Homo sapiens: one gene and its partner. The protein of the gene in region 2 interacts with the protein of the main gene of each other region in a biochemical or structural test. Each region holds a gene or a part of one and is shown on either strand. Other genes may lie near its edges.

Region 1 (7,405 bases), on a different chromosome or scaffold from region 2:
GTGCTTAGCATGGGAGCAGCAGTGGGAGCAGGAGTGGGAGGGGCCGGAGCCCAGGGGGAGCAGGGGAGGTGGTGAGGAAGAGCAGCTGGGTCAGATTCTACCTGAGGAGACACGTCCAGGCTGTGGAGGGAGACAAAACCGTGAGCCTCCTGGTTAATGCCAAGACTGGAAAGGCCCCTGAGTCCCACGCCCCACCCCCTGCTTCGGGACCAGGGGCCATAACACACACATAGGCTGGATTTACCTACTTGGGCCAGGGTACAGAGGGAAGACCCCAACATGTAACATTATCAAGTGCCTCCCAAGGAGAAATATGCCAGGCAAAGCTATTTTAATGCTCACTCCAACCCCAGAGAGAAATCATCTCATCTGATAGGCAGGATCCGATCCAAACCTAACCAAGTGTTCTTTCCTCTATCCCATGCTGAAGCTTCTAAGGTTCTACTCAACAAGGAATTTACATCTGGGAAAACTAATCTGAAAGCGCCTTACATCCCTTTTTTTTTTTTTTTTTTTGAGATAGAGTCTCTTGCCCAGGCTGGAGTGCAGTGGCGCGATCTTGGCTCACTGCAACTTCTGCCTCCCAGGCTCAAGCCATTCTTGTGCCTCAGTGTGTGCCACCACACCTGAATAATTTTTGTATTTTTAGGAGAGATGAGGTTTCACCATGTTGGCCAGGCTGGTCTCGAACTCCTGGCCTCGTGATCTGCCCACCTGGCCTCCCAAAGTTCTGGGATTACAAACATGAGCCACTAAGCCTGGCCCCTTTTAGGACTAAAAGCAAAGAAAACACCAGCTGGCATGGGGGGATAAAGAGACCAGAGAAAGGCCAGGCCTAGGTATCTGGCTGGACAAAACCAGAACTTATAGGACCTAGCAGGGCACCTAGAATTCTGACACTTGAAACAGCCTGGGTTCTATTGATCCCTTGCAGAAGCAGAAGTAATGACGGGCTGTCATTGGGTGTGACAAGGTGTCTTGTTTCTTTGAGGGGCAGCCTAACTGGCTAAGGAATATAAGCCACCTGTGGAGAACGTCAACCAAAAGGTGCCCTGATGGTCCAGCCTTTGTCTGCCAAGGCTGGCAGTGTGACAGCAGCAGCAACTCTGGATGTCACCAGGGGCTTCTCAGGGACTCTGGGGACGGGGACAGGGCAGGTGCTCTTAGGACACTGGAGAACAGGTTCTGGCCTTCATCTGTCCAGGACAGGGTCCTTTCTGGGGGAAACGCCCCCTGCACTGGTGCTTATCCACAGAGTGAGGCCGACTCCAGAGATGCGGGCAGGGGCGTGCTCTCAAACTAGAGCTTCTCACTTCCCTAGGACCCAGACAGAAGGCCAGAAAAAATGGCTGCCTTGCCACTGAGCCACCGTCAGAGGCAGACCTCGGTGGCCTCACCCTCTGCCTTCTAAGCAGTCTCCCTCCTCATGGCTGGTCTCCCAGGCCTGGCTCTAAGCTTCCAGGACCCCTGTTCCTTGGCTCCTGCCTGTCCAGGTGGAAATATCCTGGGGAAACCCCTACACATCCGACTTTTCAAGCCAACCAGCTTCTTGCACAGGAAATGTAGACAGTGAGTCCTGAAGGGGCAGAAGCCGGGCTTTGGCCAGCCAGCCCATAAGGAGTGTGGCTTGGGGTAGGAAGGGCACCTGTGGAAAGAGCATGAGCTGTCTGGAGCTTGCCCGGATTCTCCCAGGAACCCAGGGCCCAAAGAGGGCAGACCCACACAGAGGTGGACTGAGGCAGGTCAGCTCGGCAGCTACCACCAGGGGCGGACCACAGGAAGGAGTCCAACTAAACAGAGGCACAGGTAGCTCCAAAGATGGTTCTGGGAGAAGGGAGGTCAGCCTCACAGGTCCCAAACCCAGGGATTTCTCGTAAGAATCAGTTTCCCGAGAGTCTCCTGACCCTATTTTTCCCCTTACAATAACTCCCCATCCAAAGGTAAATTCTCAGTCTCATCCCCTCCACCTAAAGATGGAGGGAGAGGGAGGTAAAAATTCCCACCTGTTCCCACCCCACCTGGGCTTCCACTACTACCCTGCTTCTATGGACATGGTGAAGATACCAAAAGAGGAAGAATCGTGGGCCCAGAGCCTCAACCCCAGCAGATGCCCTTTCTCCCTTCATTCCAGACAAGCCCCAGGCCAAGGCACACATGCCTGCTGTGGGGACCAAGGGGAGTGAGAAGCAACATACACCACCACCAGGTCAAGAGCCTGACCTCAGCCCACTTGCCATTAGTGCATCCATACCACACCCAGCCCAACCCTGTCTACAGGACCCGGGCCCCCAGGAACAGGGCTAGAGCACTCTGAGCTGCTTCTCTCCCCAGCCCCCTTTATGACAATAGGCCACAGTGGTCTGAAGGAAGAGAGTCCCATCAACATTAAAAGCACTACGCTTAACTCTGCCCCCTCAGCCCTAACCTGGCCTGCACTCACCCTTGCAGTCTTTCAGCAACCTGGCTGGCAGTCAGAACTGCAGGGACAAGAGCGGCAGGGGAGTAGACTGGGAGCCTCAGGTTAGGCTCGGCAACCTCCCTCTCCCGGCCAGCTCCCCAGAGGTACACACAAACCTGTTTGTATAGAATCAGCAAAGGGCTCTCCCTGGAGGAAGGGACTCCAAGCACCAGGCCTGGCAGGCTTTACAGAGCCAGCAGTACTTCTGAGGGCATCTGTCCATCCTCCTATCTGGTAACACATCCCTCCTTCATGCCTTCCTCTTCCTTGCTCCACACCAAGTGCACATTCTGAAGGTTCTCACTTCAAAACATCTCCCTCCCACTCCACCTGGCCCAGGTCAGGAACATATTCCCACGTATGCTTGTCTTTGCAGGTCATGCTCTGAGAACAAATAAACACCTCTGCATCCTAGAACCTACTGTGCCGGCCTGGCACACTCTCCCCACCCCCAAGCGGTGGGGGCAGCAATATATGCTGATTTGTCTTCTCTTTTAGGATCAAATGCTGGGAAGGAAGTCAGAAGTCCAGATGTCTCTGCCCCTTCAACCTGAGGGAATAAAACTTTACTGCCTGCAGGAAGCTCTGAACAATTGGTTGAACCTGCCACTCAACACAGGAACCACCTGTTCACCCTGACAGCCCCTCTTCTTAAACACTACACCACAGGGCTACCTCTGTAGCTGAAGGCCAGGTGTCACTAGCAGACAACTCTTCCTTGGGCTGAAAAGAGCTCTGTGTCCTTGTTATTTCCACACACTGGTCCCAGAGATGGCAAGTGAATCTGCACAAGCTCTCTACCAGGCAATCCCCCAAAGGCCGAAGCCAGCCTTGGAGGCACGTTCATCTCTAGCAACACTGCCCTTCAGCCTTCCATCCTGAGGCACGACCTCCTGACCCTCCTGAGATGGGCCCAACGTGCAGGAAACATGTCCAAGAGACGGGTACATCCTCTCCCATCACCTGGGCACAATGAGGTGACAGGGGCCTTGTAAGCTGTAAGTAGGGAGAACGTATCATTTATCTTCCAAACCAGAACACTGTTAATACAGTAACCATGACAAGAGCATGGTTGTGAGGAGCACATGAGGAGAGCAGGACGTGAGGCTGCACTAACTCCAAGCCACTGGGAGCACATTATAGTTACTCATTTACACCACCAAGAATGCAGCCAAGCTCCTTCCGCTGCCACAGCACATTCCAGGCCCACAGGGAGGGACCTTGTTGCCTACCACACCTGGTGCAGGGAGGCACTGCAGAGACTGCCAGAGGCCACCATCATGATACACTCATCTCTATGTTGTACCACACTTATTCCCAACTTTAAAAGTTTTTGTAATCAACATTTGATCCCCTTCTGTGCATAGAGTCCTATGGTTAGTGTGGGGGGCGGGGAACAAGGGAACACAAGGATGACCCGGGATAGACACAAAGACAATCCACTTTGGCCCTGGCGGGTTTAAAATGCGTGGTCTTGCCTGTCCTCAAACACACGTGAAGTAGCCTGTGCTGCAGCTCAGTGTGAATGGCTCATAACAGGGCAGGGGAATGAGGCTAAGTCCTGTGGCCAAGACAAGCTTGGTCTCAACTACCTACTCCCTGCTCCAGCACACACTGGTAGGGGCCCAGTGTGACTGCCATGGCCCCCAGCAGACAAAGGCCACATCAGAGGAACAGCAGGACCCTCTTCTCAGCCCTGTATAGCCTCATTTGTTCCTTCCCCACGGCAGCAGCCTTTCTCTGGATACCATACTCAACACGTTCAGCCCCGGGCCTCTCTGTGGGGCATCAGTGCCACATGGGAGCACTAGAGGGCGCCGCTGTTCTTCCTAGTGAGGAACATCCCACAATCTGCAATGGTAGCCCCAAGGCAGAGGCCCCCATTCTCTGGACCTGGGGACAGGCTCCCCAGGCCCCAGCTGGAGATCCTGCAGCTACATTCAGTCACTCCAGTTCTGGGTCTAACCCACAGCTTCCTGCCATGAGGCAGCCCACCTCTCCTTCTCTCCTCAGAGGCCCTAAGCAAGCCCTCTGGGGAAGCGCCAACAGTCCTTTCTTCCAGGCCAGCCTTCCCCTCCCTGCAAGGCACACAAGGCCAGGATGCTGCTGATTGAGCTCAAAGGCCAGGTGTCACATCTGTCCAGGCCAGGCCATCTTACCCAAAGCACAGCCCCTCCCACCCCATCTGCATGCACGGCCACAGAGCCTGGCCCTGCAGCCGCCACCTGCAAATAGGCCCCATCTTGGGAGGGATGCTGAGTGCCCTCCATCCTGCTAAAGACAAGGCTCAGAATTCAAGTGACAGCAGGACAGAAACCTCAGCTTCCTTATGGCCATCAGTGACCCAAATCCTCCAGATTCCAAGAGGCCATTAGGAGATATGGGGAAGCAGGAGAAAGAGGATGGAGACTGTAAGTGCCCCAGGCCAGTGACAACCCCACAGACTCACAGCCTGTGGGAGTCCAAGCCCAAAGCCTGGGCAGGACTCACCTACAAATGGCCCCAGCATTCACCTTGCCCCAGAAAAGGCCCAGAGACACCGTACGCACAACCACACTGAGCCTGTGCTCTGTGCCCCTTTCAATCCAGGCCCTCAGCTCCTCCCAGCAAATGCCCTGTCCAGATCTCCTGCTACCTCCCTCTACCCTACCACCTCCAAATACCTCTGGCTGGCTGTCACAGGGACACCAGGCTCAGCCTGGCATCTGGGAAAGGCCTGTCCCCTTCTTCCCAATCTTCCCCTAGGCCGCAGATGGCCAGCAGCTCACCTGAGCTCTGGTGAGTAGGGGCGGGGCAGTAGGGACAGGAGCTGCCATACCAAGCAAGGGAGGCAAGGGGTGGCATGCCCCTGAAACTGATCCACCCCCCCATACCCCTATCTATGAGGGTCTAACAGGGATTGTCAGCTGACCATGGCCCAAACCTAGAAAGGCCTGCATGTCTCTCTCCACTCCTCTCAACAGACTCAGAGTGCCACAGGGAAACAAAAAGCCAGGACTACAAGATTCCTCTCCCCTCTGGGCAACAGGTTTAGGGTCCTTCCTCTGCCCTATCTTTTGCCCCCTTGTTACTGTGCTTGTCCTCTAAACCTGTCCAAGCAGCCATGGAGCGGGAAGGGCAGGCTTGTTGAGAGAAACAGTGCTCTCACCACACTGGCCAGGGCTGCCACAGATGCTGCCTATGAGGGCTGGCCCCAGGCCCTTGGGAAGGTGCGACACACACTTCTGTGACCTGTACCTGGAGCCCCTCTCTGGACCCTGCTATACAATTCTGCAGCCTCTCCTGGCTCAGAATTAGGAGGAAGCAAATGGTAGGCATCAGGGTCTCTGCCCAGGGCCTGAAATGGGGGACTCAGTATATTCAAAACAAAACAGCTGCCACCAGCACTTCCCACGGTGCCATACCTCAAGACCAAGAGACATCAGAGAGGGCCAGAGCTCCCAGGGTCTCCAAGGACAGAGATGGGTTACAGATTTCATGGGAGCTGCCCACAGCCTCTTGCCTGGGGAAGCAACTGGCAGGTGAATGGACGGGGGAAGGAGTGGTGGCTTCAGTTATTTGACTCCCGTCTCCCAGAGGGAAGTGATCACAGAGACAGCTGGGGAGAAGTCCTCTAGCTCCAGAGAGGGGAAGGGAAGTCTGAGAGTGCGGTCTCCAGTCCTCATCTCTCTACCAAGGCTTCCTTACCTTGAGGCCAGAGGGCAAGAGGTGGAGGTCAGGAAGCAAAGAATTCACACAAATGGACTTTCCTGCTTCCCTCCAGCTCAGGGGGTGGGCATGCCAACTCATGCAGCAAGGCCTAGGGCTGAGAAGTCGGACCCCTCAATCCATAGGACTCTCAGAGCACTATGCCCTCGTAACTCACCTGTGTCCGTGAGCACAGAACGAACCTTGGCTTAGGGAGACACCCCACTAAACCATGCAAAGCCAGAGCCCCAGCAGCCTGCCTGAGGTCCATATCTACTCCTTCCTCCCTGCCCCAGGGTCCAGGCAGCACACACCCCAGCATCCTCCCCAAGGAGCAAAGTTGGTCTTGCCAACGACTTACCTGGGTTTCTGAGTCGGGTCCTTGGCTTCTCTCAAGCCAAACCAGCTACTCTTGGCCTTTTCCTCCCCACTGGATGAGTGATGTGGGGAGGCCCCCAGGATGGGACCCCCCTTTTCCCCCAGAGAGCTTCGGCGACCCAACTCGCTCCGACTTAGGCCTTGGTGGTGGTGGTGGAAGAGACCCATCCGGGGCTTGCGTTCCTCCTTCCGGGCTCCCTCCTTCTCTGCCACAGCCTCAGAGGAGGCCACTATGGGTGTGGCAACCTGGACTGGCTTGCCCTCTGGTAGCCGGGCCCCCTCCTCCTCTCCAGGGTGGCTGGCCCCAGGGGCCAGGACTTTAGCCTGAGCACTCAGCTCCTCCTGTCCAAGCACTGCCTCTGAGCTGCTGTTGCTACGACTGCCTCTGGGCCAGGTGTCATCTGTGGAACGAGGCCCCTCCTCGGAGAACCGGGAAGAGACAGCTTGCAAGGAGCCAGAGGATGGAAGCGAGCCCGAGATGGAGCTGCGGTGCCGCACAGGGCCCTGGGGCTCCTCATTGTAAATGTGGCTCCCATTGACACAGAGCGAAGAGCGGGAGGCAGCATCCAGGTGGCCCTGAAGGTCCAGAAGGGCCCGAGGAGGAGCCACTCGCATCTGGTTGGCCTCATCGCTGTAGGTCCTCTTATGGGTGAACAGCTTGGGGGACTGTGCAGAGTCCCTGCCTGCAGGGGAAACACACAGAGTTAGCTCGCAGGAAGAGAGGCCCCATTTCCTGGCCCCAGGCCTTCATCACCACCCAAGGGGAGAGCCAGTGCCCCCCTCCCCAGGGCGGCGGCCCTGTGCTTGCTCACCCCCTTCAGTGGACAGCCAGCTGCTACGGCTTGGTGAGCGGGTGAGGAGTTCGGCGCCAGGTCCCTGGTA
Region 2 (8,042 bases):
GTGTAAAAGGGCAGCCAGCATAGGTCCAGAATGATGTAACACAATGGAATTTAAATGCTAAATCCCTCCATTAAAGGCTCACAAAGGCAGTTCCACCAACACCAGTCAAAAAAGTCAAAGATTCATAACAATTTATGTTTTAAAAAAAGGCATAGGTAATGTAAATACAGGTTTAATACAGGCCAACAGCAATATGATTGCACAAAAAACGAATTCAATATTAGACTGCATTTACAAATCGCAAATTGCCAAGAAAGTTACTACTGTCTACTAAAATTAGTACTGATGTCCAGGGTACTCCCTTTCAGCGGCAGCAACAAGACTGAAAACGTTTGATCATTCTCCCAGCAAGCCCCTTCCCCCATAGGAGTCAGAAGACCAGTCACGCATTTGGAAGGGGAAGGAGAGAAGCAGAGAGGAAGGAAGCGAGACTGCTGTCTCCAAATGTCTGAAGGCGGTCCCAGGGAACAGAAAGACAATCAAGGGAGGCAAACTTCAGTTCAATACAAGAAAAGACATGCCAGAGATCAGGGTTGCTCATAAACGGACTGGCCCACCAGAAAGGCAGTGAGCACTTCACCAGTAAAGGCCAGACCCGCTGAGGAAACAGGGACAGTAGGTTTCCCTGCTCAGGAGTAGGTTTCCCTGCCCAGCCGCCCCTACACTGGACTTTCACAGGCAAGACTGCCTCCCTAACTCCCACACCTCCCCATTCTCTCAATCAAGGCATTATATGAGAATGCACATTAGTAAGAAATGTTAAGACAAGCACTACTGCTATATATTTTTTTAATTTGCAAATTCTGGTGCTTTAGCAAAGGTCAGAGACACTAACAACTATTAATAACTCATGAACTCTGATAGTTGGACAGCTAACTCACTGGGATACCAGCAACGCTGCTCTCAGATCCAATACTCAGATTATATTCATTCTATGTAGTTTCCCTAAACAATTTTCCTAAACAACGTTCTCAATTTCAGTACATTAATAGATTTCAAACTCAAAATGAGTACGCTTTTCCTGAAATTACTTCACTTCGTAAAGGTTGCAGGCAAGAATTCTTTGCAGGAATTTCTTAAACTCAGAGAATTGATCTTAATTCCTCTACCAAAGCAGAGATTGAGAGGTGTGGAAGGGTGAAAGCAGATTTCTATTTACAGACATCCGTTCTTCTCCATTATTTCCTCACTTTTTGAAACTCACCACTAAGTGACAGTGCAGTGTTCAAACAGATACCTAACATGGTTTAGGTCCCCTTCTAATTCTACCCTCGTCTCAAGATTACAGATTTGAGCAGCTCATTACTCAACTATTCAAACTCTAAAATGATAGCACTGTCATCAAAGGTACTCTTTGAACCTTCGAGAAAGAGTACTCATTCCCTAATGCAAGATACTCGAGGAGGAAGCTGCCTGTCGAGCAATCCAACTTACACTCTAGGGAAAAGACCCAGGCGTCCACGTCTCTGCTCGCTTCCTCACCTGTAGAATATGATTCTGAAACCCACAGTGGTACTGCTGTCAAAGTCGCCCCTTTCAGCCTGCACAATACACTCCATATCACCTGCTCTAAGGGCCAGGCTTTACCTTTCTGAACGTGGATGATGTCCGGGAAGTTAGCCAGATGCCCCTGATACAGCGCTAATAGGTCCATGACGGGATCCAGGTCCTGCCTGGGCTGCTCCGCGAAGAGCTCGCCAATGGCGTCATAGGCATCTCCGGTGAAGGCGATAGCCTGGTTCAGGCCCACCGAGAAGGCCTGCTGGTCCAGCTCAAAGGCCTGGCTGAGGCCGCGGAAGGACTGGCCCACCTTCTGATACTCCTTTTTGAAGCCGGTCACCTGCTTGCGCGCGAACTCGTTGGCCGTGTGGTTGAGCTGCAGCGCGCTGTCGTCCATCTTCTTGGTGAAGCACTTGAAGCCGTCGATCTTGCTCTCCACCTCCTGCAGGTCAAGGGCAGCGGCGGGGGGCGTGCTAAGGGTCAGGAAGAAGTTGGCGCCCACCATCTCGTCCTTCTCGGCCTTCCTCTTGCCCTGCTTCCAGGCTTTCTCGTCGGTGCTGCTGGGGCACGTCAGGAAGTGCTGGAAGACGTCGCACTGCGCCAGCACTGGGTGGCTGGCCATGTGGTTCATCCACCAGATCAGGCCCTTCCTGCGCTTAGAGATGAAGTCCTCCTCGAAGCGGCCGGTGGCCTGCTTCTCGGGCAGGTGGGGCACGGAGATGACCGGGAACTTCTCCGCCAGGCGCGCGTACAGCCAGTCGAAGTGCTTGTAGCGCCGATGCACCGGCACCTGCGTGTGCGTGGGCACCAGCTTGTAGGAGATGTAGCTCTTCATGCCCTTGAACTTGGTCTGCTTGGTGGGGTCGTCGATGGTGCACTGGAACGGGTAGGGGTTCTCCTGCCACTCGGGGCCATAGGGCCCCAGCACCACGCACAGCTTGTCCCCGTCCTTCACGAAGCCTGACGCCTCCCCCAGCACGAAGGCCTCCCCGCCGGACTTGACGAAGGTGGAGAAGCGATTGAGGTTGCGGCTCACGGTGGCCGAGCTCTTGGGCCCCGACGGGTGGTGCTGCGGGGGGACCGAGCCGCCGCGGGAACCCAGGGACAGGTCGGAGCGCGTGGACAGGCGGTAGCGGCCGGCTGCGCCCACACCCGCCGAAGACGAGCCGTCGAGGTCCGGGTATGCTCCGCTGCCCAGAGCGCCCGGCTCGTCCGCCACCGTGGAGCTGTCGTCCCACTCGTCGTCCCAGTCATCATCGCTGCCTTGGCTGGCCTGGTAGCCGCCGTAGAGCTGCTGAGGCGACGGCTGCAGGGCGCCCCCGCCGTACGGGAAGCCCGCGCCGGGCGGCTGGAAGGTGCTCGGAGGCGGCGCCTGCTGTGGCTGCAGCAGCGCCTGGAAGGCGTCAGGCGGCGGCTTGAAGGAGGCGGGGGGCGCGACAGGCAGGGGCTCGAAGCCCCCGGGGGGCACATTGGCGTAGCGGGCCGGGGCGCCCGGGCCGCCGTCTCCCGCCGGGCCAGGCTCGGGGGCGCGGATCACCTGCACATAGGAGGCCGGGAAGAGGCCGCGGTCGCCGCGGCTGTTGACCCCCTCGAGCCAGCCCTCGATGTCCTGCTCGCTGCACAGGCTCAGCACCTCGTGCTCTCGCAGCGAGATCTCTCCTGGGTTCTCCGACCTGAAGTCGTACAGCGCCCGGGCGCGCAGCGCCATGGTCCCGGCGCCCCGACTGGCGGTCCCGACTCCCGGCGTCCCGAGCCGAGGCCCACCTGAGGGGCCCGCGGTACTGCTCGAGCCCTGGCGCGCGGACTGGAGCCCCGAAGGCGGCAAACCCACGCTGCCCGGACCAGCCGGTCGCGCCCTCCGCGCGGCTCCGCTCGCAGCGCCTCCACTTCGCAGCGCCGACTGCCGCGCTGGGCCGCCGCAGCCGCCGCCGGTCGGGGGCGGGGCCCGCGGCCTCCCACGTCTCCAGCTGCGCTAATCCACGGCCGAGAGCCCCTTGCCAGGCGAGAGCAAGCGATGGCCGAGCCGCCGAGCCCACCGCCCGCGTCGGCTTTGCGGCGGCCACTGCCCTCTAGTGGCCGGTGCCGCGAAGCCGGGCGCCGTAGTGAGCGCGGCTGAAGGAGGTTTCTACTCCGAAGTGAATTATCTGAGATTTCTTTAGGCTTTTAAGTTAAACATTCTCTAGAAAGTAAGTTAGCATTTGCATGCCTGATAAACGTTCCCACTCTGAGCGCTCAGTGAATGCTCCTAGAATGGCAACCCAGTCATGTAATAAAGCATTTTGCAATGCGAATTAGTGATTGCACTAAGAAAACAGGATGCCTCTGCGGAGGAGCTGTTCACCTACAGAGCAGGCTCCCTTCCCTCTTCTGCTCAAGGAGAGGAGATTGGCAAGAACAAAGTAAGGGCCAGGGAAGGTGCTGTGATTGACAAAATTAGAAGCAAAGGATCATGTAGAGAGGGAGGAGCTGGAGAGTTTCCAGTACAATAAATGCTCACACATTTATTACATGCATGTGTCGCCTATCCTCCCATAGATATATGTAGTGCGGTGAATGAGAGCTCAAACTTCGGAGCCAGGCTTCTGAATTTCAATCTGTGTTCTGACACTACCTAGCTGTATGACCTGGAACAAGGCACTTATATCGTACCTACCTCCGGGGGTTGTTGTGGGGATTCCATCATAAAGTAATCCCTATTTTACAGATGAGGAAAGTGAAACAATATCTGGCAGGGTAAGCAGATTTGAAGGGTTTGTTGCTGCTTTTGCTGCTGTTACTGTTATTTGGGGGAAGCAAAATCCCTGGCCTCTTTCACAAAGGGAATAGGGGTACTAAACTAACAATTGCAGGGTACATGCACCAGGAAGCGTCCCAATGTTCACATTGCCACTCCTAGTAAGAGGTCAGTGACCATCCATCCATCTGTTGTCTCTATGTCTCACTATATTTATATTATTTTTAAGATAAATAGAACAAAAATCACTTCCTGAAATAATCAGCTCCAATCTATCGTTGCCTTGTTTCCTATCTTCCTTTCCTTCAGTGTATAATTTGCCCAAAGCTTTTTCTTCTCTTAATCCCCTCTTATTAAGTCTAGCCTAATTATTCCTTTGAAGACACTTCTAATTGAGGTTCTGCATTCATGTGTCATTAATTTCAGCCTGTCCTCTGACCCTTTTCAAGGAAACCTGGGAAACGGGCCAGAAGAGTGTACAATTATTCTAAGGGCTGTGGTATTGTAAGCATCTTGCACAAAAACACAAACCCACTATACCAGAATCACTCCCACAGTGTTTATCCTAATGCAAAACCTTAATTCAATTCAGTAAGCATATTCTAAATTACATTTTTAGCTGAAAATTCTGGGTTTTGACTATTCTCACAGTAAGCAACAGGGATCATTGAATTTCAATGCCAACATTTCATGTGGTCAGAAACATGAAGTCCACATTAACTAAACCTCTAGAATATGACTCATTTTACTTCTGAAAAGCTAACCTAGAATATGTAAGATAAATAAATTTAGTTTCGCCCCTTCTGTTCGTTTAGTAGTTACTTTTTAGATTAGAGTTAAGTACAGTAACTTTGGGCTTATTTCAGGTGTGAAAATTCCAGGAGTTTAAGGTGATGATTTTTTACAGACTGGTTGAGCTACTCTGTAGAAATGGTGGTTGAGGAATTATTGGGTGTCCAAGGTTGTTTGTAGCACTGGGGCATGGGCGTCTGCAGGTGCTTACTTTGTAGGAGTCCAGTGGGAGGCCTCTGTGCTTGCCGCGCATCAGGCTTCCAGAAGGATGAGGACAGGCTGTCATGATGTTTGGCCCTATGGCCACTAGTGGCAGGAAAACCCCTACCTCTAGAGGGTCTTAGATATGTAGAAAATTGTGCTCCAGTATTAACAACCTATAACTGTTCACTCAGGGAAATAGATACAGTAACACATTTTGTAAAGATTTCTCTAGAAAATGGAGCATATTATTCACAGTTTAGTTTACACAATCATTATAACCACCCATATGCTTCTGTAAAGTTTTTAGGGGACACTAAATGACCCCAAACAATTGCATTTTCTTACTTCCTCCCTTGGCCTGAGAGGCCTTAGATAGCCTGGCCCTTGGCTATCTTTCCAGCCCCCTTTTCCACTGAAAGAAGCCACAGTGGTTGCTTTGCTATTTTTGGGACAAGTCAAGCACGTTTCTTGCTGAAGTTTTTGCCTTCGCTTTTCTCTCTCCCTGGAGCCCTCTTCCCCGGGAGATCCACCATGCCACATCATCGCTTCATTCGGTCAGAACCATGGGGCTTTCCATCCCTCCTTTCTTCTCCTTCCTTGGAGATACCGGAAGACAGAGGGAGCCTGGGTCCCTGAGTCACCGACCCCAATCATACTTTGTGAGAGAAAAATCCTTTGTCCGACTAAGCCACTGAAATTTCAGAGATTGCTGAGGCAGCTGGTACTAATTATGCTAATATAATCTCCCTCCCTCCCTCCCATCCCCTGTCCATCCCACAGTCTCACTTTTCTTTGTAGCAACTATGACCTAAGATAAACACGTCTATACATTAACGGCCTCCCCTATTACAACATAAACCTTTTCAGGGCAATGAGGTTTTCTGAGCACTGAGGATATAGCAATGAACAAAACAGACATGTTAGGCAACCAGTTAGTATTTGTTAGATGAATGAAAGAATGTCCACTTACATCCTCCCTAGATGAAGTCAGCTCTCTCCAGTAGCTCTTATTGTGTCTGGGTCAGCTTGCCTGGTGCCCTCTGCCACCCAGCTGTAACTGTTTCTAAGGCAGCTAAGTAACACTCCTCTTTAAATCAACAACGTTAAAGGTAACACAACCACCCAGAACACCACTGCAAATTTTCAGATTGTTAGAAATTTCACTATTACAGAGTGGGTCATTATTAAAATTAACACTATATTTTACTTGAAAACACTCATGTAATGCATCAAGCATTACACAAATATGTACATATGATTTTAGATGCACTTACACCTTTCCTGTGTTATTTCCTGCCGTATTTTCACACCAACTCATCCATGCATGGAGCAGATATTGCCATCCCCACTATCCCAGATCAGGACAGCCAACTGCAGAGAGGGTCGTCTGCTGAGGTCAGGTGACTGAGGAATGACCCAGCAGCTACTCAGCTGTCCTGAGAACTTCGGTTCACTGTGTCACAGGTCTGCACTCTGCTGGCGCCTCAAAACTACTACTATTATTAAACAGCATCCAGGCCCAGCACAGTGGCTCACACCTACATATATATGTTTTATGTATATAAAAATTTATATATACAATTTTTTATTATTTATATATTATATATTATATATATTTTATATATAATATATAAAAATTTATATATACTATATTAAAATTTCTATATAATATATAAATTTATATATATCATATATATTTATATAATATATAAATTTATACATATGATATATATATTTATATATTATATAAATATATATATCATATATATTTATATATTATATAAATTTATATATATCATATATATTTATATATTATATAAATTTATATATATCATATATATTTATATATTATATAAATTTATATATATCATATATATTTATATATTATATAAATTTATATATATCATATATATTTATATATTATATAAATTTATATATATCATATATATTTATATATTATATAAATTTATATATATCATATATATTTATATATTATATAAATTTATATATATCATATATATTTATATATTATATAAATTTATATATATCATATATATTTATATATTATATAAATTTATATATATCATATATATTTATATATTATATATTTATATATTATATAAATTTATATATATCATATATATTTATATATTATATATTTATATATTATATAAATTTATATAATATAAAAGTTTATATATTATATATAAATATATATTATATATAAATTTATATATTATATAAAAATATATAATATATATAAATTTATATATTATATATAAATATATAATATATAAATTTATATATTATATATAAATATATATTATATATAAATTTATATATAAATAAAAATTATATAGGTATACATTTTATACATATGCGTGTATATATGTGTACACACACATGCGTGTGTATATGTGTGTACACACACATATGCACACACGTATATGTAATATTGTTTTATACTTTATATATTTTATATATTATAAATAAAGTAAAATGAAGAGCAACAGCCATTTACTAGAAGGTTTGTAGCTAGGCTTAATAGAAAGCCTGGCTCAAGCCTGCACTCCCAGCACTTTGGGAGGCCAAGGTGAGTGAATCACTTGAGGTCAAGAGTTCGAGAACAGCCTGGCCAACATGGCAAAACCCTGCCTCTACTAAAAATACAAAAAAATTAGCCATGCATGGTGGCACACACCTGTAGTCCCAGCTACTCAGGAGGCTGAGGCACGAGGATCGCTTGAACCCAGGAGGTGGAGGTTACAGTGAGCCAAGATCATGCCACTGCACTCCAGCCTAGGCAACAGAA

What was found. Proteins that work in one complex are often made in the same cells at the same time.
Region 1: the proteins of SNX18 (region 2) and RAB11FIP5 form a complex in vitro, tested with the Homo sapiens proteins (one study listed by IntAct).

Annotation. Positions count from the first base shown.
Region 1 is NC_000002.12:73,081,544-73,088,948, forward strand, and holds part of RAB11FIP5 (rab11 family-interacting protein 5), read right to left. Parts: coding exon 7,336-7,405; intron 7,207-7,335; coding exon 6,507-7,206; intron 121-6,506; coding exon 1-120. UniProt on the Homo sapiens protein: Rab effector involved in protein trafficking from apical recycling endosomes to the apical plasma membrane. Involved in insulin granule exocytosis. May regulate V-ATPase intracellular transport in response to extracellular acidosis.
Region 2 is NC_000005.10:54,513,119-54,521,160, reverse strand, and holds the start of SNX18 (sorting nexin-18), read right to left. Parts: upstream 3,403-8,042; 5' UTR 3,209-3,402; coding exon 1,588-3,208; coding exon of another isoform or gene 1,322-1,587; exon of another isoform or gene 115-1,321; intron 1-114.